Linked DNA regions of Homo sapiens. The protein of the gene in region 2 interacts with the protein of the main gene of each other region in a pairwise test. Each region holds a gene or a part of one and is shown on either strand. Other genes may lie near its edges. The genes, in order: AATF and ZNF468.

The links.
Region 1: the proteins of ZNF468 (region 2) and AATF interact in a two-hybrid assay, tested with the Homo sapiens proteins (one large-scale study listed by BioGRID and IntAct).

What each region holds. Positions count from the first base shown.
Region 1 is NC_000017.11:37,053,290-37,057,111, reverse strand, and holds the end of AATF (protein AATF), read right to left. Parts: intron 512-3,822; coding exon 448-511; 3' UTR 241-447; downstream 1-240. UniProt on the Homo sapiens protein: Part of the small subunit (SSU) processome, first precursor of the small eukaryotic ribosomal subunit.
Region 2 is NC_000019.10:52,840,360-52,844,181, forward strand, and holds part of ZNF468 (zinc finger protein 468), read right to left. Parts: intron 1,793-3,822; coding exon 366-1,792; 3' UTR 1-365. UniProt on the Homo sapiens protein: May be involved in transcriptional regulation.

The DNA.
Region 1 (3,822 bases), on a different chromosome or scaffold from region 2:
CAGATCAACGGACATTACTGTGTTGAAGGGACACCTGCACTCCCACGTTCATTTCACCCACAACAGCCACGCTATGCAAACAATCTACATGTCCGCCAGGGTGAGTGGGTCAAGGAAACGTCAAGTCTGACATTGTATGAGGAGGCCACTGGACTAGAAAAAAAAAAGCTCAGTAAATGTGTCATCCACTAGAACCAAACCAGACTGACTCTCAGCCTCTTAAGAAATCACAAGCGGTGGTGGCGGTAACAATGCTCTTTATTTGTGGCGTTTAAAGGCGGGGTTGGGCGGGACAGCGCCCTTGCGTGTATTAGGCACAGGTTCGGAACGCAGCATCTTTCCAGGGGCTTCCCTACTAGCTCAGCCCCATAAAGTCACTGGTTTCCTCCATCTGGACCAGCAGCCGCACCAGCCAAGGCGCCCACTGGGTGTCGGAGGTGGGCGATGTCAATCCCCGTGGCCTTCGTCGGGAGGGTGGAGCTGGCCAAAAAGAGAGCGGTACAGTTCTGTCCTAAAAGACAAACACAGCAAACTGGTTAACACACTGGTTCACTATTCAAGGTTAAAAAGGAACGCAGAAGCTGGAAAATACCCCATTCTGTTTCTTCTGTTGAAAACACAGCCATGTAATTAAAAATGCACCCCACAGCTCTTACTCACAAATACAACAGAAGGAAGAAACCCAATCAAACAGTAAAATATGTAAATGGTCCAGTGCGGCTGGACACCCGTCTCCAGGGAATGAGTGTTCTGTAAGTTTGCCCTTTGCAGACAGGCTCTTCAAGTAAGAAAACAAGATTGAATATTTTAATAGGATGTAGGAGACCGCCATCCGATGAGGAGGATTCAATCAGACATGGGATGTAGGGGGATATAATTTAGTTTTCATACATTTTCTTGGACTTGGCAGTACTTGAAAAACAATGAAAATGAGCCAGCAACACGATTCCAATTACTATCATCTGTGCAGTTGTTCAGGAAGAGAACCAAGCTTCTTCCACACTCCCCAGCTGCCCTGTCTCTATTCTCAGTCTAATAAATAATATGATTGGCTAATTTATTTCTAAAGTTGGGTTTTGACATTAAAACAATAACATGCCAGGGTCTTGGGCCCCTAAAAAGAAAAGTAAATGACCACTTTCAAACTCTTTTAAATGCAACATACACACAAACATCGGCCAAAGCCATGTGTCAAGGCCTGGAAAACCTAAAAGGGGTGTGGGTGGGGCAGGGATCTTTCCTATCGTTGAGACAGAAGCTCCAGAACACTTTCCCCTGTGGATACAGAGCAGATCCTCCCTGCAGAGACATGAGGGACCCATGAGGTTCCAAGCAGGCAAGACCCGTGTGAGGACGTCCCTGTCATCAGGGAGGTGGGCGTGTAGCACGTGGCCGCAGAGGCAGCCATCCATGTCCACGCCCTGCAGAAGGCCCAGCCGGTAGCCCTCACAGAGACAGGGCAGGCGCACACAGGGCTGAGGTCATGGGCCAGGAGCCCCAGAAGAAATCTACACCTGCTCGGATATTCTCAAGATGGAACTCAAATTCCAGCCTGCCGTCTTGTTTTAAAAGTGCTCTCATCATCTGAGGGTCAGCATCGGCACATCAGACTTTAAAAGCAAAACCAAAAAACCCCACCTTTCAAACAGCAAGGCTTCAACACAAAAAACTACTGGTCTTTTTTTGAAGTCACCCTACTATAGTTATGGATAGGAATAAAGGTACTACAATTAGGAAATCCAACAAAAGGAATAGAGTATCAAAGCTTTAAAAAAGTCAAAAGAAAAACATCTTAAGGAAGAACTACAGAAGCCACAAATGTAAGCTAGCCTTATCATGTTGGGGACCGCGGGAGGGACAGGCAGTGAAAGTGCAGGCCAGAAAACAACAGGCCTCCAATTTTATTACAGGAATTTTATCCCAAGAATGTGCTGGTGCCTTCACCCTGAACTACCCAGCAGACCCCTAGGCCACAGACAAAGGACACAGCTTCCCCCTTGGCTCCACCCATCTCTTCTGCTCTTCTGTTACACACATCCATGTGACTAGCCTCAATCAGCCCAGACGAAGCCTGCCAAGGTGGACGGCAGCCCCAGACCAAATGCAAACCCACGGCTTCCAAATCAGCAGCTCCGTCACACGGATACTTCGGTGCCCAGGGCAGGCTCCACTTCATCACACCATGGCCTGCCTATTTGCCAGTAAAGACAAGTCTCTCTAGCTGTTTCCACACAAAAAATTAAATGGCGTGAAAGGGAGAGTTGCCATAACAAAAGGACAGTGTGACTTTAGGACAACAACGTCTGATGAGAAAGAAATGCAGAGGCGCGAGGCTAGCCCTTCACATCATACCCTTTCCAGCCTCGCCGCGCTTGCCTGCACCAGACCCCATCATTACCACTGAGCAAATGCTTCCACTCTGCGCGCAATATCAGTGCAACGCCTGGGCCGAAGGCAGCAGTTACTGTCCGCAGCAGGGTTCACGTGTCAGGAGCAGAGAGTGAAATGCTGAAACCCATGTTTTCATAGAACATCATTTCACACTCAGGTGGGCAAAGCTGACAAACATATGCAGCTGTTCATGGCAAAGCAACCTGGGAAGCTGAGTGGTCTGGGTTCTTAAAATATTTTCAGAGAGAGAGAATATCAATAGGGGATTATTTCAATCTAAAAGTCCCCAAGCAATTTCAACTTTTACATCTTCCTCACCCACTATCACCAGCTGGTGACCGTTTTTACCTTCAAAGCATCTCAAACTTCACAGCTCCTCCAGGCTTCCACTAGGTCAGATCTCACCGTTTCTCATGAAGCACACAGCAACAACCTCCTGGCTGACTCTTCCACTCCCTTCTCTGAGACAGACAAAGCAGACCCTCCCTGGGGCCCAGGAGCAGCATGGGGATGAAGATCCCCGCCCCACACGCCCCCCACCAGCCACCCCCACTGTAGATTCCAGCGGTTCAGCTTGGCCTCAGCCCTTCCTCTTTCCAGGTCCTGGCTTTGGCTCCTGCCCTGAGCAGCTGGGTGGTACAGGGAGGCACAGCCCTTCCTCCCTCTTTACTAGGTTGGAGAAGGTAGGGTTGCACATTTTTATAACGTTTTTCACAGTAAGTTTAAATAGTTACAAAATATATAATGACCAGGATGTTGTGAAAATTAACTTTTGTAATGCCTGCAATGGAACCTACATGCCATAATGATTTGATACTCATCGTTCATTCAAGTAACACATAAACTATTTTTTTTTGAGATGGAGTCTCGCTCTGTCGCCAGGCTGGAGTGCAGTGGCGCAATCTCGGCTCACTGCAACCTCCGCCTCCCGGGTTCAATCGATTCTCCTGCCTCAGCCTTCCAAGTAATTGGGACTGCAGGTGCGCACCACCACGCCCGGCTAATTTTTTATTTTTAGTAGAGACGGGGTTTTACCATGTTGGCCAGGATGGTCTCCATCTCTTGACCTCATGATCTGCCCGTCTTGGCCTCCCAAAGTGCTGGGATTACAGGCGTGGGCCACACATAAACTTTTTAACTTGGACATTTTATAGCACCTTTTTCTTTTTAAATTTTATTTCCACCTGACTTTTCCCTACAGAGTTTTGTCCTAATATAATGGTTTCATGCTTGAATGTCTTTTATCAATCACCCTTATCATACTTCTTGGCCACATTAGTCTGTAAATAAAAGCACTTTTGAAATTTTTAAAATTCAAAAAATTGAAATGAAAATATTTTAATTGTTTGACATTATAAGGCTCTAAGTAGTTTAAAAATGTTCCTCTGGATTATTATTAGGATATAATCAATATATAATAATATGATATAA
Region 2 (3,822 bases):
AACGGTCTTGCCACACTCATTACACTTATAATGAGTTTCTCTCCAGTGTGAATTCTAGTATGTTTTGCCAGATATGCATTATATGCAAAAACCTTGTCACAAACCTTACCTCTGTATGGTTTCTCTTCAATGTGAATTTTCTTATGTGTTTTAAGGTTTGATTTACAACTGAAAACTTTTGTCACATTCCTCCCATTTGTAAGGTTTCTCTCCAGTATGAAGTCTATGGTGATGTGCAAAGGTTGCTTTTTGATTAAAAACCTTGCCACATTCATTATGCTTGTAAGGTTTCTCTCCAGTATGAATTGCCTTATGACTTACAGGGTTGAATTGTGATGGAAGGTCTTGCCACACTCATTACACTATTAAGGCTTCTCTCCACTATGAAGCCTATGATGGTATACAAGGGATGACATCTGACTGAAGGTCTTGCCACACTCATTACACTTGTAAGGTTTCTCTCCAGTATGAAGCCTACGATGGATTATAAGCGATGATGTCTGACCGAAGGTCTTGCCACACTCATTACACTTGTAAGGTTTCTCTCCAGTATGAACTCTCTGATGTTGTGCCAGGTGTGAATCCCTCTGGAAAGCCTTGTCACAAACCTTACATTTGTATGGTTTCTCTCCAGTATGAATCCTCCTGTGTCTTTCCAGGTTTGATTTGCGACTGAAAACTTTGCAACATTCTTCACATTTGTAAGGTTTCTCTCCACTATGAATCCTCCTATGTCTTTCAAGGTGTGATTTGCGACTGAAAACTTTGTCACACTCTTCACATTTGTAAGGTTTCTCTCCAGTATGAAGTCTATGATGGCGTGCAAGGGTTGATAGTCGATTAAAAACTTTGCCACATTCATTACATGTGTAAGGTTTCTCTCCAGTGTGAAGTATAGTATGTTTTGCCAGATATGAATTATATGCGAAAGCCTCATCACAAACCTTACATTTGTATGGTTTCTCTCCAGTATGAATCCTCTTATGTCTTTCAAGGTGTGATTTGCGACTGAAAACTTTGTCACATTCTTCACATTCATAAGGTTTCTCTCCAGTATGAAGCGCTTTGTGAATGAAGAGGGATGAATTATGACCAAAGGTCTTGCCACACTCATTACACTTGTAAGGTTTCTCACCAGTGTGACATCTACGATGGCAGGCAAGGTATCGCTTCTGATTAAAGACCTTGCCACATACATCACATTTACATTGTTTCTCTTCTAAGTGAATTATCTGATGTTTTTTTAAGAGTGAGCTGCAATTAAAGGATTTGAAGCTCTGTATACATTCAAAAGATTTTTCTCTCATGTGTACTTCCCATTTTTGTGTGAGTAATGAAGAATGGAGGGAATTATTTCCATACTTATTAGAAATATGGGTTTTGGGCCTACAACAAATTCTTTGGGATGTTGAAACTGAGGAAGCATTGTTGATAGACTTCTCAACTTGATTACCAATTTTCCCTTCAGACTGAAATATGTGCGGTTCAGGCAGATGCAAATGAAAGCTTGATCCAAGCTGATCTTTAATACGCTTGTTTCCAGCATGCCTTTGATCATGTTGGCCTGTACTACCAGCCAACTCTTTGATTTCTGTCATGGGTGCTGCATGGCCATTTGTTTCATCTTCTTTCCACTGAAACTCGAAGCCATGAATGTCTTTCTCAATTTCATGGAAACAAAATTCTCCAATGTGATGACTTGCTTGTCTGTGCAATGTCCCTGTGTGGATCACTTCTGTATTGCCTTGCCCTGTTGACGACAACGTCTTCAACATGCATTTGGAAGAGATATCTACAAAATTTAAACACCAATAGGTTTCCAATTAAGTACAGACGGTATATAATACTGAAATGTGTAAATATCACAGAAAAAAAACAATACTTATTTTCAACTTCCCAAACGTGAGCTTCAAAGTTTAGGAACACAAAAGGAGTAAGATTCTTTAATAAATAAAGGGCGATTACATGTGCTTCAAATCATTTCTATGGAAGCCTATTTCCAATATCATGACAAAACACTGACAGGGCACAAACACGTGTGAGTCTAAAGAAAGGAGTGTTTTTCCACTGTGACCCTAAAGTGTGTCACACTGTGCAAAATACATATCACTGTCACATCAGAGAAAAATATATATTCTCCATATTTACAGCGTATTTAGGGTATACAAATAAATGCTAAAGAACCACACAATATACTATATTGGTAAATAATCCACAACAAGCTCTTGTAAGAATAACCAAAATTAGTGGAAATTCTCTATTGTCAAACAATCACAGCACTGACAAGATAACAGAAGATTACAAAAATTAGCCAGGTGTGGTGGCCAGCACCTGTACTCCCAGCTACTCCAGAGGCTGCGTCACAAGTATTGCATTAAGCTAAAAGGCAAAGGTTGCAGTTAGCTAAGATTGCATCACTCCACTCCAGCCTTGGTGCAAAATGAGACTCCATCTCAAAAAAAAAAAAAAAAAAAAAAAAAAAGACATGGCATGGTGGCTTGTGACTCTAATCCCAGTAACTCCGGAGGCCGAGGAAGGTGGATCACCTCAGGTCAGGAGTTCAACCAGCCTGGCCAATGTGGTGAAACCCCGTCGCTACTAAAGACACAAAAAGTAGCTGGTATGGTCACAGGCACCTGTAATCCCAGCTCCTTGGGAGGCTGAGGTATGATAATCGCTTGAACTCGGGAGGCAAAGATTGTGGTGAGTTGAGATTGTGTCACTTTGCTCCACCCTGGACAACAGAGTGAGACTCTGTCTCAAAAAAAAAAAAAAAAAAAAAGAAAATGTTAATACCATATTTTTCTGAATAACTGTTACAAAATTACCTATATCCATGTGGAACAGTTATGTTGTGACTTTTTAAAAAATTTTTTGTATTTTTGTTTTTTTGAGATAGAGTCTCACTCTGTCACCCAGGCTGGAATGCGATGGCACGATCTTGGCTCACTGCAACCTCCACCTCCTGGGTTCATGCTAGTCTCTTGCCTTAGGTCCTGAGCACCTGGGATTACAGGCATGTGCCACCATGCCCAGCTAATTTTTGTATTTTTAGTAGAAATCAGGTTTCACCATGTTGGCCAGGCTGGTCTCGAACTCCTGACCTCAGGTGATCCACATGTCTTGGCCTCCAAAAGTCCTGGGATTACAGGTGTGAGCCACTGCACCCTGTGGCACTTTCTGACATTAATGGGGGGAGTGTGTCCGTTATATTGCATACCACATACCGAACACTCATATATAAATTCATAAAAATCAATTAATCAAATATTGCAACCCATGATAAAACAAGCAAGAAAATAATAAGTACATTTATACAGACTGAAGAATTCTAAACAATTCCCTCTTAAGAAAAAAGCCAAAACTTGTACTTATCACCAGCACACAGTGTAAGAACTGAAATAGATGTTAAGATCACTACCTTCTGATATATGAGGTCAAGAAAATACACAGCTTTACCAGGAACAAGAATTGACTAGCGGCCGGGTGCAGTGGCACATGCCTGTAATCCCAGCATTTTGGTAGGCTGAGGTGGGTGAATCATGAAGTCAGGAGTTGAAGACCAGCCTGGACAACATGGCGACACACCATCTCTACTAAAACTACAAAAAAATCAGCCAGGCATGAAGGAAGACGCCTGTAATCCCAGCTACTTGGGAATCTGAGGCAGGAAACATTTGAACCCAGGAGGCGGAGGTTGCAGTGAGACGAGATCATGCCACTGCACTCCAGCCTCAGTGACAGGATGAGACTTTGTCTCAAAGAAATAAAATAAGATAAATAACTACTTCTCAAATAAGCTTTGGTAGATGTGGTATTCTC